2 separate regions of the Homo sapiens genome follow, and region 1 is linked to region 2. The links come from fine-mapping of genetic effects on gene expression. A gene starts in region 2. The other region holds a variant in brackets. All regions are shown on one strand. Distances are from middle to middle.

Region 1 (16,373 bases), 360 kb after region 2:
GTTAAAAAATTATATACAAGAGAGTACAAAAGCCTTTGTGAATAAACAAAACAAATGTGTTGGTAATCTATGTTTAAGGGTTATTCACATTTTTGCTGTTTTGAGGCTTTTCAAAAACTTTTCAAACACAGCAGGAAGAGCTTAGGCTTGATTCATGCGCATATTTCTGTTCTTAAAACTTTCCTGAATTTGTACTTTTTCTACATTTTGAAGGAAGAGCCTCTTTGAAAGGGGTTTTTGTTTACATTTATCCAAGGAAAATTTATTCAATATCCTGCACAAAGAAAAAAAGAAGAAGAAGAAACGAAGAGGTATTGAAGAGGTACAATAATGCCCATTCTACATCAGCTAACAATGCAACAAGAAAGCAACTTCTTATCCCAATTGAGTTCATAGATGTATGGGCAATCCAGCAAATACTCTTCCTAGGTACACCACAGTAATATGTGCACTAGTACATAGGGACATGTATGCAAGAATGTTTATTGATTTTAGTGAATTACACATTAGCAGAAAAAGCTTTAATGAATTATAGTGAGTCTGCATAATGATATCTTATCCAGTTTACAGTAGTAGGCAACTACCTTCTCTTTGCATAATTATCTTGGTTATTCTTAAGGATTTGTTCTTTCACAAACATTGCCAGGTAATGTTATCTAAATGTAAGGCAGAAATTTGGATTTTGATTAGAGTTGCAGAAAATTTAAATTTAAACAATAATTTTGGAAAAAATGTTTTTGTGATTTTAAATTGTCCAATTGAAGAATATATGGATGTCTATACATTCAGATCTTTTTTTTAGATTTAATTTTATTATTATTATACTTTAAATTTTAGGGTACATGTGCACAATGTGCAGGTTAGTTACATATGTATACATGTGCCCTGCTGGTGTGCTGCACCCATTAACTCGTCATTTAGCATTAGGTATATCTCCTAATGCTATCCCTCCCCACTCCCCCCACCCCACAACAGTCCCCAGAGTACATTCAGATCTTGTTTTATGTCCATCAATAAGATTTTTTGTTTTCTTTATCTTGTCATGCTTAACATATTCTTAAATGCTTTTTTTGTTTTTGTTGTTGCTATGAGTGAAATGTTTTCCATTCCCATGTTGGGATACTCAAGGCTAGGATCTATGAGAGGTATAGATTATTTAAAATATTTATCGTGTATACAGCCAACTTACCAAATTTTCTTACTAATTCTATTATTTTTTAAATAAAGATGATATGATCTTAATGTGTCCCCCAGAGTTCTAGTGTTAGAAACTTTCTCCCCAGTGCAACCATGTTGAAACCTGGGCCTTTTGGGAGGTATTTAGGTCATCAGGAATCCACCATCACGAATGGATTAACACCGCTATAAAAAGGGCTTGTGGTTCACTCTCTTCTGCTCTTCTGCCATGTGAGGACACAGCACCCATTCCCTCTTGCCCTAACACTTTCTGCCATGTGCAGATGCAGCAAGAAGGCACTCACCAGATGCTTGCATCTTGATCTTGTACTTCCCAGCCTCTCCAGACTGTGAGAAATATTTTTTTCTTTATAAATTACCCAGTCTGGGGTATTCTGTTGTAGTAGCATAAAATGACTAAGATAAAAGGTTTGCTATGTTTCTTTGTAGTCTTCTAGGGGCTCAGGTCTGTTTGATCAGTGGCAGCTCTCCCATTGCGGGTAAATAAAGAGATCTCCGTTTTTTTTAACAACACCTAATGGCTGTCCAGTTGAGCACCAGGTAGCAGGCTACCCTCTGCTATATTGGGGAACTCTTTTGCTCCCCAGTCTCTTTGTTCTCTTTAATACTTTGTCCTCCTGTTAAACTCCTTGGCCTCTTGGAAACCAGGGATACCTGGTACTCTCATGAAAGGCCAATGAGGACCTTCTCCTTGGAGTTCACCAACCTTCACAAGGTAAATTATTTCCTGGGGTTCTACAGAGCTGGTCTCCAGATGCTCACTCAGATAAAGAAGATTGTCCCATATCAGTTAAGTGGGGACTAACAGGTTGGAATTGGTGAGGAAGTCAAATGGCTGCATTTGGGTCACTGTATTTCCAGAATGCCCCTCTTTTAGATTTCTAGATTATTATGCCTAATAGACTCAGTGTTACTTTCTAAGGAAGCTGTTGAATGATATATGTATGGCTTCATCCTGGCTCAAGCACTTAGTGACTTGGCTTCCCACATTCTTCCTTTCTCATTCTCTTTCCAACCATACACCTTAACCAAGTAGAGTCTAGATTATCTCAAAATGAACTTTGTACTGTGATGGAATTCCAATTCACAGATAGCAAATCCTAGAGGCTTAAACTTGCATTCAATTGAAAAAGTTATAGAATAACTGAATAAATTATCTTTATGACACAGTTTATCAGGCATGATTGATAACATCACTAGATGTTGGCTGAAGACCAAAATACATAATGTGATACATTATCTGGTCTCTAATAACAGCCCCTAGTGAACCATACCTTCCAGTCTTCCTGCCCACTGAATCTGGACTGGTGGGCCTGTGACTTCCTTCAACTGATAGGATGCAGGAGAAGAGACAGTCAGACAGTTACAAGGCCTAAGCCTGTAAGAAAGACGGTAGCTTTGAGTCATGGTGTAAGACATCCAGCTACTTTGCTGGAAAGACCATGTAGAGACACCACATGTAGAGGCCAGTTGAAAGAGAGAAAGGAATCAGTAACTTCTGCCTTTACCAGCTACAGTCCCAGACTTAGGCATCCTTGCCAGGGTATCTATCAGATTCGTGAGAGGAGAATCCTGGGTGTTTAAGCGTATCCACAATCTGATCACAGCTGCAAAGAGACCCTAAGTGAGACCACCAGAAGAACCATCTAACAGAGACTATTTAAAAGTGGTGGGAGAAATAGTATGCAAAATGGCCTCTGAGTTCAGTCCGTGTTGGAGCTTAGGCTGACTTCGTTCATTCAAATAGACATTCTTCAGAATGCCAAACCACAAGCCATATAATTTTATTATGCAGATTTATTGCATATTAAAATTGTTGTTGTTTTAAGCCACTAAATATTGAAGTAGTTTGTTCTGCAGCAATATATAACCAAAACATATGTTAAGGCAGAAATTTAGAGTGAAGTTGGGACTCTCAAATTCACACAGTAACTTATTTCCAGACCTAGATTTTCCATTTTGTTCCATGTTTTCATCCTTTTGTCTCCTTGTTGCACTAAGACAAAAATCTTAGTGACACAATTTAGGATTTTTAGGACACTTTTGATTCTCAGGGATTTAAGAATGATCCACTAGAACCTACAACAAAGAATGCAAATAAAAGCAGTTCTGTAACTTGGATTCTCCAATATGCTGAAAGTGCGCAATCTTGTTTCATTTCCCAAAGTATTAGGCTTTCTGAATCAGGCCTTCAATCTAGTGAAGTGTCTGTAAGAGTAAAATGGCACACACCACACAGGCTCATAAAATCATAATAATAATAAAAACCCCTCAGACTTTTTTTTTTTTTTTCAGCTGTGAAGCAGCACCTGCCATTAGCTGTGGTGGTTCCTATTTTCATATTGTCTGACAGTAGCAGTTGGATCACACTTGAGCCAGTGTGACTGAGAGGCGGGCTCCCTGCTTCCACAAAGCTGAATTTAATAAGATGAGAACAGCATGCCAAGATGGGGAGCTCCCTCCCTGACACTTATCCTGACACCAGCCCCTCAGCGGGGCCGTATTGCTGTGGTAATCTGGGTGAGCCGGACAGAGCGTCCTGCTTACAAGTTCAATATAATGGAACAGCAGGGGGCGAAGGGCTGGCAGAAAAGCTTAGCAAAGTTAAAGCCTATTACTCTATGCTTGAGGAAAAATGAGTCACCAAATATTACACCCAGAGCAAGACTTGAACCTGCCAAATGCAGCAGCAACACACGCTAAGTCTTGTCCATAATGGTGCATTCATTATCCTATGGTCCAGGGTAATGTGGATTTAAATGTTTTTAACCCTAATGGAAATGTATATGCAAATTTTCCCTTAAGCCCATCCCTCCCTCAGTGTTCTTTTGCCCTATTTGAATCTAATAGGCAAGGTGACTGTACACTGCATATGTCAAAGAAAATGATGCCTTCTTTATCTGCCGTCAGTAGCAAGAAGAAGGCAAGAAACTGGACAGAAATCTTTCAGCTGCATGTTATGGCTATTGTTGTTGCTGTTCTGTTTTATGCCTCTTGTGGTGTTGAATTTAAAATTAATGGAAGAAATAGCATGCAAATGATCTCTGTGTTCAGTCCTGATTGAGGCTTAGGCTGGCTTAGTTAATTTTAATATCAGCTCTTCAATATAAGTGAATTCTAACACAAACTCTTCAATATAGATAGGTTTTGATACAAGTTCTTCAATGCTGGCCATTCAAATCAAACTCTTAGAAGTGGAACAGATTTGCCGTATATTTTCCATCAACCAGTGCCCCAGAACTTACATATTTCCATCAACCAGTCTAGGACTTTGTCTAACTGAAAGACTATTATTTAGAATCCTGATCCTTAGGACTCTAGGACTCAGTCTTTTTTTTGAAAGAATGACAATAGAACTAAGACTTGTGATTCCTCCTGCTTCCCTAGATTAGCTACTACCAGATTTTCATTACAGCAGAGGCCACTGAGATAATCAATTATGGTGTTAATGACAACAGCCACCAATTACTGAGTTCTTATCATGGGCCAGGTGCTTGGTTGGGTAATTTATGCCCATTATCTCCAATTGTTATATAGTGCATCATAAATGTTCTCATACTGTTCTTCAGATGTGCAAAGAAATTTCACCTTTTTTATTTACAGCTGGCCAAATCTTATTCTTCATGGTTTTCCAACGGAGATACAACATTAAATGTCAGACCCTTTGGATGTATAGTGTCTTTCAGCTATATACTCAGTCTTTTAGGTTTCCTCTCTTTCCCCTTGCTCCTCTTGAACATGGTGTCTGAAATGCATGTGCTTAGCACCAGTGGTGAATGAACACTCTAGACTCATGTTAGTTCTTGGGTTCCTGGAGGCCCTACCTTGGGATGGCTGGCCTGACCAACTGCATAGACTGAAGAGCAATCAGGTTCTAACCAGCTATTTGGAGCTTCCTGCTGGCCTAATACTAGAGACTGTGATCCTGGCCTATTAACTCTGTTTATGAAGCCTTCAAATGTTGCAGACTCTGACCATCCCAAGGTGTATGACAGTCCACCTTCTGTCTCTTACATTCTGTGTCCCCACATCAGGACATGTAGGAATACCTGTATGCCCTTCATGCCAGGCGCAGGCCAGGGGGAGCAAGCCCACTTCCTCAGTCTCATCTCTCATCTCTCTTGTTCTTCTGTCGTTCAGTGGTGTACTTTTCTTCCCACTCCATAAGGACATGGTGCAGAGATTAATGGGAGATCCTTCCTAAGATCTTAGCTGTGTCTAGGGAAGTAGACCACTAATCTTTATGTCTCGGGGGTATCCTAGAAACATCTAAATATTTCCATTGTCCTCTCACTTTATTTATTTATTTACTTATTTATTTATTTATTCATGCATTCATTCATTGAGATGGAGTCTTGCTCTGTCACCCAGGCTGGAGTGCAGTGATGCGATCTCTGCTCATTGCAACCTTGGCCTCCTGGGTTCAAGCGATTCTCTTGCCTCAGCCTCCTGAGTAGTTGGGATTATGGGCATGCATCACCATAACCAGCTAATTTTTATATTTTTAGTAGAGATGGAGTTTCACCATTTTGGCCAGGCTTGTCTCAAACTCCTGACCTCAGGTGATCCACCCCCCTTGGCCTCCCAAAGTGCTGGGATTACAGGCGTGAGCCACCATGCCCGGCCCTGTCCTCTCACTTTAAATGCAGGACAAGGAGTGAGGAAAATGGGAATCCTGACATCTGACCTCCTTCATTTATCATTCACACTTTTCTTCTTTTAACACTGCCCTGGGCACAGAAGCAGGGCTTGCCCCTTCCTCTTCCTGCCTAGCCAGACCCCCATACCTCATATGAGTTCTTGTTGTACTCTAATTGCCCTAATTTAGGTTCCCCAGAAACAGACAAGGAATCAAATGGAAGTAGTATATTTGGGAGGGGCAAAAAACACCAAAGTGGGAAAATGAGAGAGGCAGGCAGTAAATAAATGGTGCATTATAGACCAGTTACCGCTGTGGGCAAGTGGACCTTAATCCCATGGGTAACAGAGTAGAGCACATGTTCAGAGTTATTCCACCCAAGGGTTAAGGAAGCTGCAGCATTTATACATCAATTCCTCTATTTGCTGTTGCTTCAGACAAAGCCACAGGACCTCAGCCATGGATTATCTGATTCAAAATGACTTTAACAGTTAAATTCTGACAGTTGAGACTTGCAATTTTCCCTAAAAATTATTTCATTAATTTGTGAACCTTTTTCTTCTACCTCTTGATCTGAAAGCCAAACAGCCAAACAAGCAGGAACCATGACAGTGTTCATTCCAGTTCAGCTAAAGACATGCATTAAAACAAAATAATTTGGTTGTGTATCACCAACCAAGTATCACAAGCAGTTCATCGCTTTGGCAGAAAGTAATAGCTTTTAAATAAAAATCCAGCTAACGTTTTTGATCAAACTATAGTAGTTACAAAAGGAATTTATTTCCTCTTATAAATCAGAGTAATACCTCAGCCCTGGAGGGCTAAACTCTCTTTTATTTCTCAACTTTTTGAATATGCTGGTCTCTCTTGTCTCTGAAACATCCTCCCATCAAACTTCCACTATCCTTGTCTTCACAGACAACCTTTAGGTATCACTTTACATGTAATTTCCTCTGAAAATCTTTCTTCCATTCTGCCACTCATCTTCCAATTCCCAAGAAAGCACTTTACTCATAGCACAAGGTATTTAACCTGCCATAGAGTGCATCTATCTGTGAAGTAATGACCAGTTTTCCTCTCTGAAGCCCACTAGCTCATGAGTTCATAAATATAAGGAGTGCTTTCTAAATAAAAGTAGCTTGACACCTAGCATGGCTTACATGCTCAAAGCGGTTACACAGTGAGTGAGTTACACTTGCTTTCAGT[T/C]CCCATGAAGCCTCACCTAGATTAGGAGATAGCACCCGTACTCAGAAAGGCCTGGGATGGAATCCTAATTTACCTCCTCTGTGACTTTTGGCAAATTGCCTAACCTCTGTAATCTTCTGTTTCCTCATTTGTGTTAAAACATTAATATTTACCTGTCAGTGATGTTGTGCCACTAAATGAGATGTAAGTCAATTGCTTGGTATTTTATATAGCAAATGGTAAGCATTCAATAGCTGGGAAGTGGATTCTACTGCCACTTCTCAACAGAGGGTACTTGGAATCATATTAATACTTATAATGTATTTATTCCTACTATCACAGCAGTCTGAGAGGCTGAATATATAAAGTACTGGTTCTCAAACTTTTGCATGTATTAGAATGCACAGAGTACATATATATATACGGGCCCTAGCTCTAAAATTTCTGATTAAGTAGGTATAGGGCGGGGTCCAAGAATTTGCATTTCTGACAGTCTCCTAGATGACACTAATACTACACTGATGGGCCTGGCACCAACCTTTGAGAACTGATTCTTGCTTTCTTCACATCTCCCTCAGCCCAGACAGCTGCACATGGGAGTCACTCAAAAAGCTTTCAAAATTACTAATGTGTGAGTCCCATACTATAGATTTCTAGTTTAATAATAGGTCTAGGGTTCAGCCTGAGCATTAGTGTTTTGAAAGTTTCCCAAGTGATTCTAATGAGAAGCCAAGGTTGAGAACTGGGGCCCCAGGTGCATGTCAATGAAGCCTTGCATCTCAAAGTGTGGTTTTCAGACTAGCGGCATCCACATCACCAGGAAGCTTGTTAGAAATGCGCAAACTCAGACCCCACCTGGACCTGACTAATCAGAATCTGCATTTTAAATAAGATCTTCCAAAGGATTCTTGTTCACGTAAAGTTTGAGAAGCTCTGAAACACGGAGTCCTCTCACCCAGCTCACATCAGAGGAAGTATTACCAGATCTTACCTTTGCTTCAGGGATTTTCTTTCCTAAAAGACCAGGATTTAAGACAAAATGAGGAACTCATTACCTATGACCTTTCCCCCAAAACAGGGGTTTTTACTCCTACATTGCAGGCATGAGTCTGAGAACCCTTCACTCATTGTCCCCATCCTTTTCTCCTCTCTATCTTCTCAGACTCAGTTTTCATCTCCAGACACAGCCTTCATCACACCTATTTATTAATGCCAAGGATTCATACTCTGATTCAAGTAAAGACAGGAGGCAGGATCAATGTCTTAGTAAAATTCAGAAAAATGAAACTCCTCTTTTAAAATATGTTAGCACCTGGTTTCTCCCTAAATTACCCTAACACACAAATGTGTTGAGTATTAAAATAAAATCTTTATCCACTACAGGCTGGAAAGTGGAAAGTAACATTGAAGGGATGCCTAATGATTTGGAAAAAGAAAAAGATCCAGCTGCATTAGTGAAGAAATTATGAGGTGTCTATGACCAGAGAAACATGAAATGTGCTAATTGAATGCCCTCAGATGCCATTATCAGTGAGGCCCCTCCAGAGCCAGCAGCACAGGCTCATCTGAGCAGAAACCTGAGCTAACAGCAAAGAGAACTGTCTTGATGGCCTAAGTAGGGTTCTAGGGTGCATGAGTCAGCAGGCGAGCGTCCTTGTGCATGGGAGTTCATTAGGAATCTTCCATAATCAAGAGTGAAAATCACCTCTGGTTGAGTGTGCCATTATGTATTTGAAACCCAGAGAGAGGACAAGTTTTATTTTTAGAGAGAACAATAACAGCCATATTAGGAATACGTGCATGCACACATTGCAGTCATGTACACACGCACACACCCACACACACTCCAAATCACAACTCTTGTTACTCCAAATGTATTCCATGAACCAGTAGCATCAGCATCATCTGACCCCACCCTGTACCTACAGTTTACGCATCTGCATTTTAACAAGATGCTCAGGTCATTTGACGCACTTTAAAGTTCGAAAAGAATTACTATAGACCAGTGGTTCACAGCTTTGGCTGTGCACTAGAATCACTCAGGAATTTCAATATGCAGCAAATTTTGACAGCCAATGGTCTAAAATCAAAGATAAAATTATGCCCTCTCTTTTCCCTTCAAATTGAGCCCTTTCACCACTTTTAAAACAGGTCTTTGATGTGCAAGAGAAATGCTTTAACACTGCTATTGAAAGATAACTCTTAGACAAGATCAGGTGCATTCAGGGTGGTATGGCCATAGACAGCTAATGGCTCCTCTAAAGACTAACTTTATTCTCTTCTAGTAATTATGTCTTTAGCTATAAGCTTACTGAGAATACAAACCGTGACTTACTTTGTATAATATCAGATTTCAGGCAAACCAAAGGGCTTGGGCCAGCATCAATGCTTAACCAATGTTTGTAATTAATGATAAATTACTGATAATAAGTGAAAGCTCAGAATTCTGCCTTCTCTGTGCTATTCATTTTTTTGTACATTTCAATTATGGAAGACATTGTTAGGATTATATCTCTTCATAAATATTAGAAGCTCTTTGAAATGCAGGAACACATTACTTCTTCTCCCCCCCATCCAAATATATAATATATTAATAAATACAGAGCATATATTCAGTGACTCTAAATCTCATTTAATATCCTTAAGTTTTGATGAAACTAGAAGGCAGGATTTTTACATAAGAACATTTGAATTTTTGTAATTATGAAGCATGCATTACTGGGAGTTTGCTGCATTTTACATAAGAACTTTTTAATTAATGAGAATTCCTCAGGAATGAAAAAACAGCTGTCAATAATAATTTTCTTAAAACTAATGTCTTCTAAGATATGTCATAGATTTAGAATATATTCAACAGAGTACACTGCACTTTACTTTCTATAAATCTGTGCAGTGAGTTTCTGTGTTTGGAATGATTACACTAGACAAGGGGTTGGCAAATGTTTTCTGTAAAGGACCAGGTAGTAATTTTTTTTTCTTTGTTTCACCAGCCATGCAGCCTCTGTCACACCTATCTACTCTGATATTGAAAACAGCCGTAGACAATAAGTAAGCAAATTCTTGTACTTGTGTCCTAAAAAACATTATGAGAACAGGTGGATTTGGCCCACAGGATATAGTTTTTCAACCCCTACAGCTGGATTATGTTAAGAGGTAAATGTGGAGTAAATTATACTTACAAAGGCAAAATAAATTAGTTTTGGTAGAAACTAGAGTATAAACAACTGCCAAACAATGCAAACACACATACTTAGATACTATTTTCACAGAGAAAAGGAAACTATAAATCCTTACCAAATCTTTCAGAGCTAATGTGGGGGTGGAGAGTGAGAAAATGCTCTGTTAACTTGTAACCTTAAGAAATATATAATTAACCAGGACATGATATTACTCAAATAGTCATATTATTCACAATTTTCTGTAAAGATCGTAGCAACAAAAGACTGTAGGATGACTTCTTCTCCACTATGGAGAGAATCAAGTGATGACTTCAGTAAGTGAACTGGAAACATAACCCACCTTAGTTTTCCAGCGGAAGTAGGGCAACGAGAAAGTCAGCCAGGAGCTGATGGAAACACCTATAGTCAAAATAATGTCTGTTATACTGTAAAAGCTCTTAGTCTTTTGATTTGTGCATTGATCAAAGACCATTTCAGGGTTGAAACTGTTGAATCCTAAGTGGATAGGTAAAGAGCTTCAGGTTCCCTGGTAATTTGGAGATTCCTTCCCTCAGAGGACATAGTAATTAGCCAGGAGGATACTCAGCCAAACCTAGTATGCTATTGTGGGTCTCTTAACAATGTCTAACTCAATGGCCTTCACCACTCATGACACCAAATGCACACACAAGAAAATGGATTTCTCTAGCAAATAAGATGTTAAAATATTAGCTTGGTCTTAACAGATGGTCCTCCAAGTTTAATCTGGTTTGATAATTTCAGAAGACATAAATTTTTGTTTGATCAGAATTGATTATCAGAGCACACTCCTGGTTAAATATTCTGGATTTGAAAAAGAAATTTAGTTTCACTCAGGGGTTCAGCAAGCTGGTGTCTGGTTTGTTGTTGTGATGGTGGTAGTGGTTTTCTTGTGGGGTTCGGTTTAAGACCCACCTATTAAGCTCTTTACCATCTCCTTCTTTCTTCCTCATTCTAGAAGTATTTCTCCTCCAGAGCAGAAGGTGTTTAAACAACACGTGCTAATGAGCTAGAAAGAAGCATCTATTAATTTGGTAACGGACAAGCAGTAGTTACATATTTCGGCCTGAGAATTGGATGTTGCTTTAGAGGCGATGAAGAATCTCTAAGGAAGTTTCTTAGATTTAAACCTCCCTTACAATTTCTGGCTTCATGTTAAATATGTAACAGTTTCCCTCTCATACCATTTTGTGGAAATTGGTAATGTAGATGGCCATTTACAAAATGGGAACTGGGGTGAATACACACATGACTTTGCCTGGGACATCTCACATTTCTATGCCAATTATTTTATTAAATTCTCACAATATCCCTTGGAGAGTTTACCTTTGGTTTTCACTTTATAGATGAGGAAACTTAGTATAAGAGAACTGGAGTTACATGGATTGTAAATAGCAAAACCTAGATCTTAACCTATGAGAATGATTCTAAAAGAATGTTCAACCACAATGCTCCATTTCTCAATTAAAAGCTACAGTATACTGCAAAGTGCCAGGGAATTGTTCATCTCTTCTGTTTGGGAGAAATTGTATTTGGAGAGTAGGTAAGAGACAAAGTTAGAAAGAAAGGTGGAAGCTGCATAAATATAATTTTATAAGCAATATTAAAATTTCTACATCTTTATTCTCCTTAGTTGGCTTAGTCTGGGATATGACATGAAGTTAAAACGTGCATTTCTAGAGGGGGTTGTGCACATATGTATACATCCAGGTCTGTAGGTGAAGAAGAAACTGTGAAGAAACTAGCAAGAGACAAGGTGGTATTTGCCATTAAGTTTACAATGAGGACCGTAATGTGTTCCAGTTAATACCTGTTGTAGATCAAATACTATGTCTTCATTATTTTAGTGCCTTTTCCCCCTTTCACTCTCAAACATTTCCCAGTTTGGGCAATAAATTGTATTGCAGTCGTATCTATAATAAAATATTCAAATAATTTCATTTTTGTTTAAGTGCTTTTGAGGCTTTATTGAAATCTTAATGTATCCTTAAATATTTCTTGGAATATTTTATTTCTAGGAAAACAGACTTGATCATTCCTTCAGATATTTGTTGAAAGCACTGAAACAGCCACTGAAGGGTGGGAATGAATCCACAAATGAAGGTGACAGCCTATGAGCAAAAGCGATAATGACGAGATGATTATAACAGAGGTAGGTAGAGCCATTTCCGGAAAGAAGAGGTTTGATCAAGGATAGGAGCTTTGTCCTGGACATAAAATATGTGAACAAGAGTTTATGTGGTGGTCGTTGTAGCCGAAGAATATTGTAGAAAAACAAGTGAGCAAAAACATACAAGCCCTCAGCAAACTGAAGGCTATCATGGGCCAGAGTAAGGGGCCAGCTCTTTCTGCCTCCAACGCCGAGCGGCAAGAGGATAGAGAGAGGGGAAAAAAGCAGCAGGAACTTCTTTCAGTTTCTCTGGTCATACATAAGGACTCTCCTTTCTTGGAGTTTTGGATACCTGACCAGCCACCACTGCAATTGTCACCACCACTGCCATAGAATTTCCTGGGAGATAGAACAGTAGAAAACATAAATTCTCTTTGATCCCATGAGGCCCCCTTTCTCCTTCTTTAGACTAAAATTAAGTGGGTTTTCTTGGAGTTCATTTTGTCTGTACCTGATGTATAGTTCCTGTTTTCCAGCTGTCTCGGTCCTGCAGCAGGAGATGCCAGAGGGGAAAAGTGGTTCAGTAGTACTTCAGGTTCTGGTTTCTTTCGTTAATCTACCTGCTGCTACTTACTTTACAGGCTCCTCAGAGAAATGCTACATACATTCCATCCAGGGTTTTAACTTCCTTCATAGAGAGAGACAGAGTGGAATATGTTTACTCCACCTTGACTAGACATCCCAGAAAGGACGGGATATCCCAGAAAGGATGTCTTCATTACTGTAAGAAGATTGGCTTCATGACTAAAAGTATCCAGAAACTTTTTATCTGAAACTTGAGAAAGTCATTGGACCCATCTTAGATTTCACCCGAGAGCTGGGGGAGAAAAGAATAAAGTTGTTTTATGAAGTGTCTTTCAACTTAATGCTTCCATATGGTTAAATTTTTAAAAGGAATATTTACAAGTATTTCACCTTAGTAATCAATTCTACAGAGCCAGCAGGAAAAAAAAAAAGTCAGTCTGAAAATACTTGAAATGCTTAATTATTTTTCAGAGTAGACAGTAAGGAAGAAAAGGCCCCAGATCCTAACTTTGGCTCTCCGCTTCACTGAATTACCAAAATAAGGGAAGTCTTCAGCCATGGCTTCAGATCAGGACAAGAAGGGAACTTCATCATGCCCGTGTTATTGTTGGGGGATTGATCCAAAAAGAAAAGACCTAAGTTTCAGCTGGTCCCAAACCATGGAGAATTTTACCCACACAAAGCCCCCATTTGCCAATGCAAATCTGGTAATTGGACACTTAATTACCCTATTTGCACACATAAATGAGGGGTGTTCCTGCAAGAAATCAGAGTCCACTCTTACAACTTTGGCCGCAAGCAATGAAACCACATGCTTTTGTCAACAGTTAAGTTGATTAGAATTGTGTTTATTTCTGCTCGTGTTAGGCCACATGTATTTTCATTGGAGCCTGATGTCTATTGAGTTAAAAGCTTAGTTTAAAAAACCTATGTTATGCAGAAAACCTAGATAGTAATTGCCAACTATGTGCCAAGAATCCTTTCATCATGTAGAGAATACAAGGTCTGAATAAAAAGAAATATTCTTTGCAACCTCATATGCTTGGGCAGACTCAGCAGTCTTATCGTCATAATAAAGACAGAAGGGCCTTTTAAAAGAATACTTTCAGCAAAATTTCCAGCATGGATTACTCTTTTGGGTAAATGGCTCAAACATTGAATTTTCCCATTTCCCTAGGGCAGGTAAAGGAGTGAATTTTCTCTGAATATCTTCTAGCTAGACAGTGTCCTAACAATGTCCTTAGGGGGAAAAACGTTCTTTCATTTGGAAGCATGTATTGTGAGTAGGCCCATCTGGGTTTCCTCCCTGTGAATAGAAACACCAAGATTTGGCCGTTTTCTGATCTTTGATTATATGCAGGCCTGAGTTCTAGTCCTGGCTCTAACTCAAACTGTGTACTATTGGGGACAGATTCAGTTCCTTACAAGTGCTGAAAAAAAAATGGTGAAGGGAAAGCTTGCCAGGGAGAATCAAGCAGTAAGTCTGGGAAATGGAGGCAGGCACGGGAGGCCTCTAAGGTAGCAATGGTGGAGGAAGATGAGCAGTAAGGAATGATCATTAGATTTGGTGATTTGAAGGTCAATAGTAACTTTTTTCTGTCTTGGTCACTAGGTGCTTAATAAATATATTTTGAGTGAATGACTTAATTATCAGCACAATTTGTTGAGCACCCCTTGCCCAGGAAGCACCATGCAAGGAGTCCAGAGTACTCAGAAAAAGAAAATGGGCTCCTGCCTACAAGAGAGTTGTGAGAGTACTCGCCAAAGAGTAAAAACTAGCCAAGGTGAAACAACTGAGCAAGACAGTCAAAGATGTAATGTGAAATGAGGGAGCAAGATGAGTTCTTACATAGTGATAGGATGCCTAGTGTGTATTGCATTCCATAGAGGGGCTCCCCTCCCTCCTGAAGTACAGGGGAACAAACTATGGAAAGACGGAAGCTGGCTTGTCTTTACCACTGCTGTGATCACCTAAGGTTCAGTAGATGCCAACCAGTGCAGAAAAGCTGTGCACCCGGGGAGGCCCCACCCCAACACGGTGAAAACCAGAGGACTCTGGAACCAGGCCTGGATTCTGGCGGCCCAGAGGTAGAGTACTTGATTTCATCACTTCTTTGTCTCTCTGCATTATGGGGCATCAGGACTCTCTTACTTGGGCTCCATCTTCTTTCATTATTTCTCATGTGGACATGTGGGATACACACACACACAGACACACACACACACACACTCTATATATAATAAATATAATAAATGCTATATTATTATTGTTTTATTTCCAAGGCAAATATTCAAAAGAAATTCTACTAATGTGTTATGTGTGAAAACGGTTATGTGTGAAAACTGTTAGTTTGAGAACAGAAACAGAAGTACGGGCCCTGTCTGTCACATCCATCACTATAATCAACTTCCTCACCATCCCATCCCTCAATAAGACATGTTTTAAAATCTTCATCATGATTTTTTTCCTTCTTTCCTCCTTCAATTCTCTTTCTTCCTTTCTTTCTCTCTCTTTCTTTCTTTTCTTTTGAGAAGCTGCAAGTGCTATTGTGATGGGCTTGACCGGAAATTACTGAAAAGTGACTCTTTTAGTTGAACATAGAAGTAACAGTGCTTAAAGATGTTTTATCAGTGGCTAAACACTCTGACCAAACTTTAGAGGTCAGGGGGTTAAGAAAAATATTTTTTCACTTTTACAAACCTGTGAACTTCAGCTGTGTCCTGTTGGTTTAGAAGCGGAAGAGAGGAGAAGAAATTACCTTTAGTAAGTGTTGACTAGATTTCAGGCTCATTAACCAAATTATCTCAGTTAACTCTCTCTGCCACCTTCAGGTAGGTATTAATATTTACTTTATAGATGAAGAAGAGTGTTGTTTAGAGAAGATTGGCAACTTGCATAGGATTACCTAGGGAAGGAAAAAAATCAGAAGGCGTGTTCTATGACCTTAAAACACATCCAAAATATTGGTGTTTTTTCAAGCTGTGGGTCAATAAGTCAATTTAATGTATCATGACTAGAGATTTTTAATTAAAAAACAGACTAAAATATATTTGAAAATATCCAAGTACCATTTCCTAAAGCTTTTGCTTTATCTAGTGTATGTGTGTGTGTGTGTGCGTGTGTGTGTGTGTGTGTGTGTGTGTGTGTGTGTACTACGTTATGATGAAAAATGTATTTCTCCCTGAGTTGTAGTCAAGTTTGAAAGCCACTGCAATTGCCCATACTGGTGCTATACAGTAAGAAAAAAAATGTCTAGTTAATTGTCATTAGGGTAATTACATAATTTATAATCCAAACAAGAACACTTCGGAAAATGAAGGAAATTTTATCATTAACTACAGGAGGTTAGCAGACTTAACAGGGATTGTTCTGGGAAAAGTTAAATGAGCATTCACCCCAATAAACATTGCTATGGTCTGAATGTTTGTGTTCCTCCAAAATTCATATGTTGAAGATTAA
Region 2 (16,373 bases):
CTCCATTGAAGGTTTGGAAGATACGTTGCTGCAGACTTGAAACCGGCTCCAAATCCGGCCCAAACATGGGCTGAAAATATGGCGCGCTAATCTGCTGCTTCCCCTCCTCCTCAAGTTCTTTCTGACTCTTCCCACCTTTCCCAGTTTCCCTTCCAGACGTCTGCGGCTCCCCACTCCACCCCCAGGATAGCTACTCTACATCCCGACAATTCCCAGCTTCTACACCCAGGAGGAGGAATTCTGGAACCACCCAGAGCGAACTCGTGCCGGGGCGGGGTGGGGACCGGAGGAAGGTCCTGCTCCGAATTCTCTCCAGAGCAGAAAAGAATTCTAGAGGCTACATGTGGGCTGCTTTCCCCCCTTCTTCCTTTTTTCCCTCGCAAACCAACAACCAAAAAGTGTTTGGTGATGGAAAGAACACCAGTGGAAAACGGCAAATAACAGTATTTCCAACTCCGAGTCAGGTCCTCTTTGCACTGCTTTTTCCTGTTTCATTGCAATTTATTGATTTTATTGTGGTTTTTTGTTTATTTGGGGCAAGAACGGAGATGTGAACCAGGACGAGCCAGCAGACCCCCGAGCCAGTATCTCCTCCCTGGGCAGGGAACACCGCCTGCACCGGTGCATACTAGGAGACCCTGGCGGAGAATGTAAACAAACCGGGCGCCGAGCCCTTGATCTTTATTTAAATAGAGGCTTGTTTATCGGTGTCATCCTAGGAGGATTAATTAGATACATCTCTTCACAATTTGGTGTCTGACACTCCATCTTAGGAATGCCTTATCATAAGGTGTTAATTGGGGCCACTCAGCCACTTACGTTTCTATTAAACACTGTGAGGGACTTTTCACAAGTACCAGGTTCTTTTTTACTGTACGATGCAAAAACATACAGGACCCGAAATAGACTAGGGCCAGAATCTGCTATATCCCGGCAGTGATTAGCACTTTGGGGCTTTCTAGAGGGCAGAAATAGGAGAGCACTGTTTTCGAAATTCCATCGCATCTCCCAATATTCGGTGGTTGGATGCAGATGTAAGGGGGCTGTTGGGGGTGTGGGGAAGGCGCTGACCAGGATAGGGGGGCTATGAGTCTCCCTTCCGGAATCTAAATCAGTCATCCACAGTACATATATCTTAAAAAGCACATCTTCAACGCTTTTGTCCTTGGCTCCCCGGTAAAGTTCGGGGCGCCTTTGCCAAAGTGTTTTGAGTAGGCCGTTCGGAAACGCGGAGCAGGAGTTCGAGCCCCCAAGGTCACGGGTGGCGCGGGAAGAACTCGGGCCCCAGAGGGACGGAGGGGAAGGGAGACAGGACAGTCGAGGTACAAGGTCCTGGCGGCCTTAATTGGGCGCAGAAGGGGAGGAGGTCTCGGCTGATTGCTCGCCTCCCAGCAGCTAATCCTCTTAGCAGCTGCATTTCCGCGCTACACAGTTAGCAGAATGATCCTCCCAGCTAGACCTTTACCCCGGGAGGGTCCAGGAGGGGGCTGGAAAGGTTTGCAATCTGGGCCTGAAGCCGTCTGCAGATAAGCCTGGCGGGACGTCTGGCTGGGGGGACAAAGGGGACCCTCCACCCCACTCTTTGGACCTCCCAGGGTTCAGCCAGGGGATGGGCTGTCCTTCGTCTTCCCGTGGAGCGTGGGCCAAATAAACGGAACTAAGCGCAAGGTGAACTGCTCCAAGGTCACTGTTTGCAGAGCGGCAGTGCACGGAACGACTGGAATCCTCCTTTGTAAGTGCCACGCCCGTCCCTAGCCTGCGCCTCAGACCGAGTCCGGGCGGAGTTTGACTGCAGCTACTGAGGCCGGCAGCCGGCGGCGGCGGGTGCGCAGCGTCTGGGTTCAGAAGAAAGCCGCAGGTGGGCGCAGAAGCTGAGCTGTGTGCAGCCCCCCGCTCCGCCGCGCCCCAGGGACCCTGAACTGGTGGGCGCTCAAAGGGCCACGGGGGTTCCCAGGGAGCCTAGGTGGGCCTAAGGATGGGTGGCCCCAAGTAAGCCTAGAAAAAAGCCCAGAGAACTTAGTGGCCAGGCGCTCTGACAGAGCCTGGTCTCCAAGAGCCAGAAGCGGAGGTTTTCGAGGCTTGGTTAAGTCTGATGTGGGCAATCGGCAGCAATCTTCCCTCCCCCGTTCCCCCGCCCCCCTCCCCCGCCCCGCCAACACCCATTGTCCAGACTTCCCAGTGGGGTAAGGAAATAGCCCCATTCCACTTCAAGGAAAAAAGAAGATAAACAAAACATCCCCACCCCCGCATGACTACAGTATCCAGTTAGAGATTCTAGAGCCTTCCGTGGAGGTAGGGGATGGGTGAGGCACTGTTAAAGCTGAAAACGATACAGGAGGAAGCAAAATGAGATCTTTAAAGCAAAGATGAAAACCCCAACAGCACAGAAGACAGAGCTATGTCCGTTCCCTTACTGAACCACATTTATTAAAAATGACTAAGACTGTACATAAAAATCCAAGATCTCTAAAATGCCTATAGGAGCTGTGGTATCAGGTTTTAGTTTCTTCACATTACCAAGTTAGGGAGAGGGGATGGCGCAAGAAGAGGATGAAATAGGAGTTTTCCTTAAACACGGTTCAAGTTAGTACATAGTAGCTGAATACATTCTTAACTATCTAAGAAGTAAACAGAATATTCCCAAATATCATGGGGATGATGAAACTCTCCCCTTGCCCCTGCAGCTGTTAAGTGATTTGCAAATTCTTTACAAAGCCAAAGCACCAGTTTTACATTATCCCAGACACCTATGTAGACTATTTGTACAATATATACCACATTATTCTATAGTGTATCTAAACACACAACTGTACACTTTTAAATTCTCCCTTTTTTTTTTTTTTTTTTTTGGTGACTCCTTAGCTTGCTCTCTCCTGAGTCCCACTGGCCACCCCAGCACACAGCAGAGGCCTAGCAAGTCTCAAGTGAGGCAATCCTGGACTAGGGCAAACATGGCTTGTTCCAAAAGCCGGGGGTTAAGGAATCAAAGTCAGGTGAAACTATCACTTTCACAAAAGCTTTTCTTGACTCCTGGGCCTAGTATCTTTTGCCCCTGGCAGAATGTAACAGCAAAATGTCTCCTTCTGAAACGGAAGGCACAGCCCTCTTTCAGAAGCAAAACACCTTAACACTCGGCTTCTATTTGCTTAAGAATTTACAAATAGAAATGAGAATCAAAGGTTTTAACTCATCTGATAGCACTGGGCACCCAATGTTCACAGCCTGCTTCTTTGAAGGGTTAGTGTCTCCCCAATAAATAAATACAGAACCTTGGATACCCTTCGAATTTTAAAATACCTTAAAGTCTTCCATTAATCTTATTTTTTAAAAATGCTAGGTTTGTTTCAGTTACCTGCAGCAATCAAAAAGCTTTGGCACCTTCTTTTAGAGAATTGCACAAAACAGGATGCATCAAGGTGGAAGGCAAACATCTTTTTGGCAACCTAGGCAAAGAAGACAACAAAAAACACCACCAAGTCCATCTGCAAAAAGTTAGCTAATTTTTGAGGTTAAAATAACTCTTTAGGGAGTTGTGTAAAAAGCATAATACCCTCCCATGCCTTTTGAGGTGTCTTTACTATACTCTTCAGCATTAATGTCCTCACACTTTATGGAGGGTGAATTTTCATTACTGGAGTTGCTAGGAGACAGCCGCCTTCGCTTACAAGCACTGGTGTATACTCCTGAATCATTGGAATCTAGAGATTTGATGGAAGGGGGTGTCTCTATCCAAGAAGAGCCAATTTCCTCTTTCACTTTCTCCTTGGAGAGCTGATCTTCAGAGAACACAGTGGGGCTTGTTCTGGAGGTCCATGGTAGTCCAGCTGCCATCTTCCTCTGGTAAGAACCTCGACCTCCCCACCCTGCCATTGCAGGAAAGGTTGGGTCTGGGTAATACCCCAGGGCATGGGATGTCTGAAGGGGCAAGGATTTAATGCCATATGGGAGCAATGTGCTAGAAGTATATTCAGATTCATAGGAACTGATGTCTAGTTTGTTGGTCCCAGGTTGCTGGACAGGCGTGACAAGCCACCGCTGGGGAGGGTTGGCCACCTCTTCGCTCTGTTGGGGTGAAAGGAGGCCGTTGGTCTGTGGCACGGTTCTCTCGCCATTATAATAGCGGGCTTGAGGTAAAGTGTTGACAAAGGGCTCCGGGAAGAAGGATTGAACGCCGTACCGACCTCCAGGGACAATCTGATGGGATCTAGGAGAATCCGTGGGAGATGGAGTTAACCTGTCATTTTCTGAAGCGGTGTACATGCTACAATATAAAGAGAAACACTTAAAAAAAAAAAAAAACCCTAATGTTGTCCCCAAACAAACCACCTCCCAGAAATGAAAAAGGCTTGTGTTGGTTATCTACACCGAAAGTGCTGGTCTGTTGGGCTGAAAGAACAGAGGCAGGAGATGCACTGGCCCATTTTAGCTGGACTCTTGGCTTATTGGGAAAAATTTCCCACCATGCAAGAAAAAGTTTCCTCCTAGGCATCAAGTATTTAAACTATAGAAAATCTACCTTTACTAGTCCTAGAACACGAAAAACTCAGATCAAACCTCCTTTGTCAATGTGATGGAAAAAACACTGGCTGTGGCGGTAGAAAACTCAGATTTTAAAAAGAGCAGGGCCTTGCTATTTCGTGTTGTGAAATTACATCCTCTTAGTTTCAGTTTTTTCTTATGTTAAAAAAAAAAGTGGGGGTGGGGGAGAGTAATAATATCTGCTCTTGGGAGGATAAAAAAATGGATCAAATGAAAAGAAAGGTATATATAAATGCAGATTCTTAAAATTTCAAATCTTCACTCAAATGCTAAAAAAACCTCTTCATTTTTAAGTCCTTAACATTTCTTCAGAAATTAACACAACCTTTCTGAGAAAAATCTAAAGCAAGATTAGTAAAGGAAAAAATTTTGGAAAAAGAAAAATATGTAAAAATCCCAAAGGTAAAAGCTCTTCCTAAAATACATTATCAGCAAAGTGCCTGTTGATGTATGTCCTGCTCAGAGATGATCAGGCAAGTGTGGATAAAAGCTGCACTTACGAATCATAGTTGTCTCTGAAGCCTTTTGCAAAGGGGTTATGATCAATCTTTAGTTGAGTAATCTAGATAGGGGAGAAAAACAGTCATTGAGTGATTTATCATGCTGGACCTTAGCTTTAGAGATTCTTGAGATGTCTGGGACACTCACATCGGTGTTTTGGTAGGCAGTCACTGCAATGAATTGCGTTTCTGAGAAGGTAAAAGTCTGGGTCTTTGAGGGCTCATTCAAGTCCTCCACGCCATCCTCTGTAACTTCAACAATATGCAGTCGGGGTTGGTATTTGTGTAAGGATTGTAAGACTATCATCTGGAAAGAGTACAGAAAAAAATTGCTAAATCTAAAAAGCCTCTTAGTGGTTCAACAAAATTAGATTTTGACAAATTATGTATTTTGGTATTGGACTTCTAAATGCTCCTCACTAACAGCTTTGTTTATTGCAAGTTTAAAGGTCTCATTATTGCCCCCCCCCTTTTTTTTTGAAATTTAAATCATAGCTGGGTATGTGGTTGTGATAGATATGCTTTCCTCTTGGTTTCCTAAATTCCCAAAATACTTCGCTATTTCTGTTCTTAATAGTCAACTCACTGTTATCGAAATCCAATAAGAAAGTGAAGATGAGAAAGGTCAAAAGAACAAAAATGGTTAGAAATAGGCGAGCAAACAGGTCACAAATGCAAATATTATAAATACAGTGAAAAGAGTAGGGACTCTTATTAGAAAAAAGCCTTATAGTCAAAGCCAGAAGATATCCCCTCCTGCTCTGTCACTCTACCTGGGTGTTGTTGTTATTTGCGCCTTTGTTATTGGTGAGTTTTAATTTCCCGAATGAAATCTCCTGTCTCATCCAGTGGGAACCAGTATTAGGAGACTCTGGGTGAACATACATTTTGTTGCCTAAGAGAAAATGAAACAAAACACAAAACCCAAGCATATAGGGCTGTTTACAAATGGAGAAAGCGGAGGGATGTCTCTTAGCTATGAGCAAGATATAAGAGCTAGACTTACAGTTGGTCTCCCAGTAAAAGTTGCTTAAAGAGGCCAGTGGAGACCAGCAGGACTACATCCATATCCCTCCCAGGCCCCTGTGCTTCCAACCTTCCTTGCACTAGGGACTCCCCTGAATGGCATTTCAGAATTTAGAAACGGAGCTAACAAGAGATGACTCTTGAAGGTCAATTTGGGGCCTTCTAAAGCTGTAAGGGCAACATCCGATGGAAGACAGTTGGATATTTATGGGTGAACTAAACTTTGGCTGGGCTTTCTCAAGTGAACATTAGAATCCCAGGAGCCCTTCCCACCTGGAGAGCTTATGACTACTGATTTGTTAAACGTAGGGATTGGGGGGTGGGGTGATGTCTTAGTTAAAGGTTCTAAATATCTACATATTGGCAGACAAGAAATCTGACTTAGCAAACTCTCCTCTCCGTCAAACAAGCAACTCAAAGACACTCATACTAACACCTCTAGGCCTCAGAATGGAAGGGGAAAAAAAAAGTGCTACATTTAAATGTGAGTTGTGTGAGTCGAGGGTTACGATTTCTTCCCGCCCGTTCCTCCCCGGCCCGAGCCTCTTCTCTGCTCACCCTGCATGTTATTGTCGGCTTTGCCACAGGTCACCCATTTGCCCCCCTGGAAGCGCCAGTGGTTGGGGTCCGCCAGCACCACCTCTACGAACACATTGTAGTGGGCAGTGGGATTGAGTCCGTTTATGTTGAAGCTCAAGAAAGGAAACATGCGCCTGTGCAAGGGAATAGAATCAGAAAAATCGATTTTAATTGGGATGTCCTAGAACAGGCCCAGGCCCCAGCGGGTTCCCCAGACACCTGGGATAGGGTCGGAACACATTTAAAAGTTTGCAGTGAACAGAATGCTGGTAGATCAAGTGGTCTGAAACTATGTAAAATATTTTTGAGTTGGCAACTCTTGGAACCTTTCCGTCTTTTCAAAAAAAAAAAAAAAAAAAAAAAAAAAAAAAAAAAAAAAAGCTTGCCCCAACATCGGTATATTCCAAATTCGCGCGTGCTTCCGAAGGCTCATATTCTCGGCCCTTTCAGACGCTCTTAAAATTTTTCTCCTAGAATGTTAAAAACTACTAATTTTTAAATGCACCATTTTGAAAAGTACCAGAGAACAATATTAGGTTATTCTTGTTAAAAATATATATTAAAACTTTAGGCTAAAAGTCCCCTTTGAGTGCCCCTCTCTCAGCACCCACCCCTCCCTTTCCCCAGAAGTAGCCAGTGTTAGCAGTTGGATGTATATCAGAACTTTCTCGCGCACCGAACCCGAGCCAGGTCTGGCTCCAGGGCAGATCTAACCACCTACTCCGACCGAGCTTCCGAGGCCGGCGCTCTAGCCTTCATGCCCACCTCCCGGAGACGCCCCGTGGAGACCCTGGCGCCTAAAACTGCGGGAGCCCATCTACTGCGCTCAGGTGGCCAGCTCTTGAGCCTTCCCTATCCGTGGCTCCTTGCCGGCATGCAGGCATGCACAAGCATACCGCCGAGCAGGAGGATCTAACGAATCCAGCTTGTGGACATGCCCTAATTTCCATTTCCGCCTCCTCCAGGTCTGTTCAGGTGAGGATGATGGGAGGGAAAAGCGGTGTACAGCCGTAACATTGGCACCCTGCAAGAGCCGCCGGGGCACTGACACAGAGGGACACCGCATTGGAGATGCGGTGTCTACGGAGATTTATTGCGCGCGGTGAAACACTCTAAGCACCGCGCGGAACAACTGGGTTCAGCTCCCTCATCCCGGACCTTCCCCAGGACCACACGTCACCCTTTATCCCCGAACCCAGGGGCCCCTCCACGCTGCGCTCACCTGCCCTGTTTCGTAATGATCATCTCAGTTTGGTGGCGGTGGAATTTGAGCCACAGAGGCCGGTTGCACAGGTAGACGTGGGCACGGAAGCCAGAACCTGGAACCCCCAGGCCCCCCAGTCCTCCGCAAGATCCCGCCGCTGCGGCTCCAGGGTACGGCCCGTAGAGCGGAGCCCCCTGGCTGTACTGATAGGTGCCCGGGCCGCCGCCCCCGCCGCTGCTACCGCCCGCGCCACTGCCCGCACCGGCTCCTGGGCCGAACTGCGCCCTCCCGGGTGGGCACACAGCCGCGGGGAAGCCGCCGGGGGGCAGCATGGAGCCGTAGGGGTAGCGCGCCCCGTTAGGAGCCGGGTACACAGGTCCGTGGGGCGCCCCAGCCGCCGCCTGGTACGGGAAGAGTGAGCAGGGCGCAGCCAGCTCCGACCCCTGAGGACCGGGGGACTGGAGGTAGTACCGCTCGGAGCTCAGGCTGTCCATGGAGTAGCGCGCAGTGGCCGCAGCCGCGGCGGCGGCGGCGGCGGCGGCTGCAGCGGCGGAGGGCAGCTCCTCCTCCCCGCAGGGGGAGCCCTTGCGGCCGTCCGGGGGCCCCGGCTTGGCCACTGCCGCAGCGCTGGCAAATGCGTCCCCGGCGTCGGTGTCACTAAGCATGGCCGCGGGGGCCCCTGCGCTGGCGGCTGCGGGCTCCCCGCTCACCGCCTCGCAGGAGAGACTGCCGGAAAACTTCTTGGACGCTTTGTCTAAGTCCAACTTCTGAGGAGAGGGGGCCGCGCTGGGGAGGTGGCCAGCGCTCCCGCCGCTGCCGCCTCGCGCACTCTCCAGCGGGTAGAAGTGCGCGCCAGGCAGGTTCACTGAGCTCACCAAGAGCTGCTCCCCTAACTGCATGCTTTGCAAAGCGCAGACGGCAGCTGGCTGCTTCCTCTCCTCCGGTGGCCTTATTATAAAGGCAGGATGGGGGAGCCAGCGCCCTCTTCCGAGGGGAAGGTAACTTCCCCTTCCTCCCGCGCCGGGGCTACCCACCTGCCGACTCGCGGGCCGCTACTGCGCGTACTGGCGCGCCCTGAATCCAGCGTCCTTTCCGGAAGGAAAGCGCCGTGAGTTGGAAAGCAGGAGGTGGAAACTAACCCAGAAGCCCTCTCCTTTTCCTTCCTCGTACCTCTTGCTCCTCAGGACCCCCACCCTCCTCCCAGGCTCACACGCTGGAAGAAGGTGACTTAGATCTTTGTCCCCATCCACCCACTAGCCCGCGCCTTTCTGCCCTTTTTCAATTGCCAAAGCATCGGTCAAGTTGACCACTTGGAAACTTATGGGCTGTCACTAGCTGCTTTATATATTTGCGGCCAGGGAGGGGCTTCCCGGCCTCACAGCCCGGAGACCCTCCTATTGGCTGGTGGAGGTGACACTAATTCAATTAGGCATTTACTAATTGGATCAAGTCGCCTGTGACTTTCTTTTCCTTTTTTTTTTTTTTTTTTTTTTTTTTTTTTTGAGACTGCGTCCCGCTGTGATAATCAATCCTGGTGTCTGTAATTTCGCCGGAATTTAGGGGGACAAAGTTTGGGGTCTCCATAGCGGTGTCCACCCTTGGCGCATTAGTCATCTCAGCCCTCCGCTGGAGGAATGAGATGGCTGGAGCAGATTTTAGAGGCCAGAGAGAGAAAGACTCTTCAAGCTGATAGCTTGCAGGGAAGCGCCCGTCCCGGAGGCTGGGGAAACTGGGGCAAGTTGGAGACAGGCCCAAGGAAGTCTCTTTCCTCGTCGGAAGCTGTAACTTCAAAGCACACCTTCCTCTTGTCGAAGGCAAACTCCCTGGCCTTCAACGCACAGAACCACTTTTTGTTTGTTCCCATCCTTTTACCCAGTGGGAAAGGTTTGTAGAGAGGAAACTCGCGCTAAGCTTTTGGGATTCCGGGGACGGCCAGAGCACATTGCCATCCTGGAGGACCTAAGCTCTCAGCTTCTAAATCAGAAGCTTGGACAGGGTACTGGGGACAGGACAAGAGTGAAACTAAGCGAGCTAACACCAACTTCATACTCACGCCAACACAACTGCTTTCGGGGAGACAGTCACTTTTATTCCCCACAATTTAAAATCCTTTCTGCTCAGTTTTCCTGATCCCGGATTCCGTCCCTTCACCACCATCTTCAGTTAGGCCTGACACCAAGAAACAAAGCTTCCCTAACAGCCCCACAGTTAGGATTCCCTGCGCCTCTGCTCTGCGGCAAATACAGAAGGTAGAATAATTAGTGAAATAATCAGTTTGATATTGAATTAAACTCCAGCTGCTTGTTTCTTCGCTGCGTTTCCTCAGATAGATTCAAGAGCGGGGCCGTCATATTTTATCGTTTCATTATTACGGAAGCGGGGGGCACGTTTCGTTGCGGATAAGGAGAAGCCTGAATATTCGCTGTTAATAAGCAATTACAGACGCCGCCAGTAATCGCTCCGGGAGCGCATTTTCCGGCTGAGATGTCGGGACTCTGCTTCCCCAACCGAACGCGATCACACGGGAAACTCTTCGCCCACAACAGATGAGATGGCCAAAGGATTGCTGAGTGCGCACACGCAAGTGTAGAACAGTGCGAAGCTTTCCAACCCAGTTTTCCAACCACAGCAGCACCAACATCGGCATGTCTGGGGTCTCCGAGAACGAGGTCCTTAATGCACTTAGACTCTCCAGGGCATTTATCACGGTTTTTTTTTTCTTTTTTGATGTGTGTGTTCGCGCGCTCGCGCGCTCGCGTGTGTGTGGTGGTGAAACCCAGGAGTGCGCGAAGATTTTCAGGGTCAAGGCACAGCCACAGGGGAGGGGGCAAGTTGAGACTAGTGGGCTGGGGCGGTGGCCTTGTAGGTCCTGGGACAGAGTGGCCAGGAGCAGATCGCCAGAAAGCTGGTACTGAGCGCGTTCTGCCCTGCGCTTCCTGCGTTTTGTGTCATCAGTATAGTTAGTGTTTGGCACGGCTGTTTTGATCACTACATTGTCCATGCCTTCCTCCCCTGCTTTAGTGTTATTTTGACCCAAGGAAGTCTAGAACATTGATTGTTCAAGTAGTATAGCTCTGTGAATACCTCATGACTGTCAACGTGAAGATCCCGTGAGGGGTACGCGAGCTCAAGGAAAGAAAGAGGCCGTGCAGCTTGGGCGGCTTGGACGACGTATCTATCCCTGGGCTAGCGGGTCCTGATTACTATTCGTAGGATCCTCCACATTATCCTTTACCTGAGTTGCAAGATATCTAAGGCAAAAGTAGGGATGAGAAATCTCCCTAATGTGAGACCTAATCTCACGTTATTTGGAGCTAGGGTGGCCAAAGGTACATGACAGTTTTGCGCTTTAACAAAGCAAGAAGCGGGCCTCGGCGTCCCTTCAAAATGCTTTTGACGCAGCCAGGGAAGCGCTTCGCGTGGCAAAGTGCCATCGCAGGCAACAGGCATCGTTCCGACCCACTCTGGCGCGAATAACGCGGGCCAGCTGTCCCCCGAGCCACATCAGAAAGCGTTGATTTTATTCCAGCCCCAGAGCAAGCTTTTGAAAGCGCATGAGTTCAGTATGAGCACCACCTAATTATTAAATATACACACGATGTATATAATTAGAATTTGTATTGATTCTTGGGGACAGGAAATTTTGGTTGATATCTACCCACTTCCCCAGTAAATCTATTATTTTTCCCAAACTTCAACACATTTTACATATGGAGGAGCAAAGACAAATTCAAAGAGAATAAAAATTCAGTTTCTATAAAACTACTCTAGGACCCAGGATTTTTGGAACATGGAAAATATGTACATAATATTATATTACATATTGTATTACATTACATTTGTAAGTATATGTTACAAATTCTCTTTAAAATAATGAAAAGCACTGTTTCAGCTACAGATCTTTTTTTTTCTGGCTGAAGATAAAAAATCTCATTTAATGGTTCCTCTGTGTTAATTAGCTAATCACATTATTATTATTATTATTACATTTAGAATATACTAGTCTAGAATGCCTGGAGAGTTATAGATGAGCAAGTCTGTGATTTCCTGCTTGAAATGGGCTTTCCTTTTGCTGGCTCAATATTATAGCCAGGGGAAGAGACATAAAAAATATTTTCACGTGTCCCAGCCACACTTTAAAATCCAGGCACTCCTTTCCAGAAGTAGGAATAGAAAAGAAAGCCAAAGCAGTGGCTTAAGTGAACATGTCAGGCAGCACCCTCCTTAGACTGGGTGGGCAAATAACAGAGCCTTCCAGCCTGTTTGCTGTTTGATTTCAATTACACCCCAAGCTTCATGAAATCCAAATGAGACATTTATTGAAAGGTGCCTGGTTTTATGTGGCTCAACTGACAGTGTATTGGAATACATTGAACAAAAACATCAACACTGGGGAGGAAACATGGAAACCCCTTGAAACCCCAGACCCAAATACCTGCTGGATTAACTCAAATCTTGTACCTTTCAGCCTGAGATGGAGCAAGCAGGAATCTTTAAAGGCTACCAGGAAGCCAAGGCCAAGTCTGTGTGTGAACACATTAAAGATCTCACGCTCTATTGTTCTGAGGAATAATACCAACTTCATACCACTGTCTTGGTCAAAGTTATTGCCAACTTGACCAGATGACCTCTTTATCTCTTTCTCCCCCTTAAAGGTAACCACTAGCCATGCATTGATCTTTTAAAAGCAAAACTGAGAAGCATTTGGTTGGAACAGGATTATTATATAAGAAATACATTTACACACATATGGGTATGTTACAGAGGTGAGTTATAGATGAGTGCAATGATATAAGGTTTACCTCTCCCCATGTGCCACCCACCCCCCACAACCAAGGGGGCCCATATAAATGTCCCAATAAATACTATTATTTTCACCCCCACTAAAAACGTGTTATCAAAACACTGTCCATGTTATTCAAACACTTTGTAAATTCTGAGCAGACTTGCTGCCGGTTCTCCTTTTAACCCTAGGAAAACATTCCAACATTAACCGGTCACCAGCGCTTCGCCTGGACTCTGGGAAAGCGTCAATGGGTTTTTTGTGGTGAGTTGGTCCTTTTACTATTTATCTATGGCCCTTTCTTTGTTGATGTTACATTTTATTTCACCAACTCAGGTTCACTCTTTGGCCCTTTGTTCTCTGATGGCCAGATCTGCCACCTCTGCTGTGCTTTCCAAAGAGGGAGGGAGCTTTAATCACCGTTAGGTTGTTCATGTTTCATTTTTTTTTAAGCAAATGTCCCGTAAGATAAAACATCTTGGCAAAGACAAGCAGTGTTGATTCTGCTGACAAGAGCAAGATACTCCCACCAAAAGTTTCACTTTTATAAGAATTTTTAGAATTTATATTTCACCATGACACTGAAATACACTGACCACTTGCTTTACAAAAAAACAAAAACAAAACAAAACAAAAAAACCCCAAACCAGAGCTACACATGTGTGACGTGAAGTGTTATATTAAACCCATGGTATTTTTTTCAACAAAAATGACCAATTTAAACTATTATCTTTGCTTTAAGTCTATATATCTACATTGCTAATGCACTTTGTGGTTCACTGTTAAAATATGAGGAGGTGAAGGAATCCTGAAATGGAAGTTAATAAATAAACACACTAATAGTTGCTTATTACAAAAGATAAATTATCTTCTCCTAAAGATTGAATCAAGAGTCTTTGGCAACAGCACAAAATCATGACTTACCTTTTTTATGAAAGTAATTTTTAAACTGCTAATGAATTTCTGTATTTAGCTGCTGTTTTATCATCATCATTATCATCATCTTTTTCTTCTTCCTCATCATGTATATGGGAATATATAATAACAAGAAAAGCCACATTAGGCAAAGAAAGTAAAACACTCTCAAGAAAGTGTATTTTGGGAACGTTTGGCTAATTGTTGCTACACTATATACGAAAGTTATACGGGGCTCCATCTATCTTGCTCATTTTTCTACCCTGAAAAGCCTGGAGCACAGTAGGTGCTTATCAATTAAATGAAAAGATTTACTAAACCTGTGTGCTGGAACAGCTAACAGAGGTCAGGGACAGTGTCAGGTCTTAGGCTTTATAACCACAAGGACTAAAGTTTTTTCCTAAGAGAAAAAGAAAACAAAGATCTTTCTAAATTAAAAGACATGATATTTTCATCTTTTTCAGACTTTAAAATATATCATTTTTAAGACCTTTTCTATCTCAAGGTTCTTACATTGTGGCATGGCCTTTGTCTGTATGTCCATGCTAAGCTTCTTCCATAGCAAAATAGAAAAAAAGAAGTTAGTGCTGGAATTGTAGTACAGCTGCTAAGGGAAGCAAACACCATGTCACCAAGGAGAAATGTTAATCTGAATGTAAATCAATTGTACTTTACTAACAGAGTTGACAGAGTCTATGAAAATTAATGTTTCAACAGAAGGCACACCTATGATACAGGTGCAGCAAGATGTCTACACAACAGGTGGGCAGAACCCAAATCCTGTTGACCAAGGCTTCAATATGACAGGGGTAGCTGGAATTCCCCAATCCAGACCCTATGTGAGAAAAGTAGGGAGAGGAAGTTTGGGTTGGGGGCAGAAATAAGTAAGCCCATAACATAACCAAGTAAGAAACAGTGAGAGGGAAGGAGAAAGGAAGGACAGACAACAGGATAGAAAACCGTCGCAGTCATTCCTTAAAGGTCTCCCTTTCCAGACTTCTAAGAGAAAACAGAACCTTGTATCAGAATTGTATGTATTTGTGGCTGTAACCTTTACTATCTTTGTGAGTCTGGGAAAGCTCTTTAACTTCTGTGTGCCTCAATTTCCCCACTTGTATAACAGCATAATTAATATGAAGCAATTAGAACAGTACCTGGCACCTACATAGGAAGTCTTTCCTACTACTCGCCATTACACTTAGACTGAGCTTACTTTTTACCGTTCTTACTAAGATACTGGAGCTAAATGAGGATGAATAAACCTTAGTCTTTTTCCTCCCGGGGATTCCCAGTCCGATGGGGGAGGCCAGGAGCAAACAGGTCAAAAGCAACGTGAACCAGGGGTAGGAAGCAGGAGGGAGTCAGTCAGAACCAAAGAGAGTCCCCAGTTACTCTAGCAGCTCTTCTTTATTTCCCCGAAAGGGGAAATCAAGTGCCCTCCCGGTGAGCTCGGCTGGAGAGGTGCACTTCAAAGCGAGGCGGCTGGGGCGCCCTAACCAGGCTGTGCCTTCCGCCCCCTCCAGGCGGCCATTAGCATTCTGTTTTTCCCAAGGCCTCCAGTATCTCCCGCCACCCGCTGGGATTTTGCCGTTCCGGCCGATTACTTGTCAAAGAAAGAAAATAGGGTATTTAGCTCAGCTTTTGTTCTCCACCTACTTGGTTAAACGCCTGACCACGAAGGAGTTAAGTGAGTAGTCGGAAGCCTCCCGCAGGGTTCTCGCTCCAGGAGAAGGCACCCTTAACTGGATGTCCAGAAAAAGAGGCCATCTGGATCCACTCGCTGTGGGTCCCTGCGGGCCTCAGTGGCGGCATCTGCAAATTAAGGGGACAGAGCAAGTGCAGAGCAAGATCTACCGCAGAGAGCGGCTGTCGAGGGAAGTCCGGAGGAGGCCCCGAAGGCCAAGCCGGCCTGGGCTGCTTAATCACTCGGTAGGGGCCGGGACGGTCCCTGGAACTCCCTCCCCCCACAGAATATCAAGGAGCCATAGTAAAGGCGTATCCAAGGGGCAACAAAGAGCAGCTAGGATCATTTTTCCACCACTTAGGGCTGACTTTTCAAGAACAGAGTTTATCTGCAAATTCACAAAAGAGGAGAATAAGAAAAGCAGCAGCTGACTTTGCTCTGCTTTACTTGTATAATCTTTTAAAAGAAAAAGCACCCTAAACTGTTATAATCCCATTTTACAGAAGAGTAAAGTGATGCTTAGAGAGGCGAAGACCCTGGCTCAAAGCACCCAGCTGAAAATGGTAGCCTGGGGATGTGAATTCGAGCGGTCTGGGCTGCGGGGCTCCTAGTGGGGGGATTAAGTACGTGTGAATGGTGGCAGGGCTGGGTCATTGTTTTCTTTGGGGGGGACAGATGTAGGCTATGGAACGGGGACCCTGTGAGTCTTCGGAGCAAGCCAGTGAACGGCATTCAGTACCCATCTACAGCCGGTGGACCTTCAGAATGAGTCTCTGGAGAAAACCGGGCTCCATGACTCGGTTGCAAATCCCAACTTTGCGGTAGAATCGGTCATCCTTGCTTGGCATAATCATGACATGGGTTGTCCACTCTCTAAGTGCTGGGGCTGGGCCAAGCCCTTGGCATACATCATCCCATTTAGGCTCTCACTCCCACCTCTTGAAGGTAGGTGCTTTCAGCATCTTCGCTTTACAGTTAAGAAAATCCAGGCTCAGAGAGATAAAATAACTTGCCTGAGGTTACACAACTTGTGAACCTTAAGTCCAGGAGGACCTAGAAGATGGAGAAGGCGGTACCTTCTGCCTGGAACTCTGAAACTTTTAACAGAAAACTGATCCCTCGGTCCCGAAGAGAGAGGCGCGG

The links. PIP is the estimated chance that this variant, and not a neighbour inherited with it, causes the effect.
Region 1: its variant is fine-mapped to the expression of EOMES in lymphoblastoid cells (GEUVADIS, PIP 0.95).

The regions. Positions count from the first base shown.
Region 1 is chr3:28,074,047-28,090,419 of GRCh38, forward strand. LOC105377008 (a long non-coding RNA gene) reads right to left here. Exons shown (of 3, transcript XR_940674.3): 3 at 15,171-16,373. Among named protein-coding and RNA genes, the nearest start is that of LINC01967, 54 kb to the left of the region's middle. RefSeq lists a silencer at 7,808-7,857. The variant T/C (reference allele first, on the strand shown) is at 7,043.
Region 2 is chr3:27,713,548-27,729,920 of GRCh38, forward strand. EOMES (eomesodermin) reads right to left here and starts at 8,776. Exons shown (of 6, transcript NM_001278182.2): 1 at 7,867-8,776; 2 at 6,624-6,778; 3 at 5,813-5,934; 4 at 5,188-5,346; 5 at 5,040-5,101; 6 at 2,406-4,261. The coding sequence starts at 8,747. The coding sequence ends at 3,523. LINC02084 (long intergenic non-protein coding RNA 2084) reads left to right here. Exons shown (of 2, transcript XR_007095851.1): 2 at 1-853. RefSeq lists enhancers at 542-1,438, 10,957-11,831, 14,677-15,608, 15,609-16,373 and a silencer at 8,202-8,411.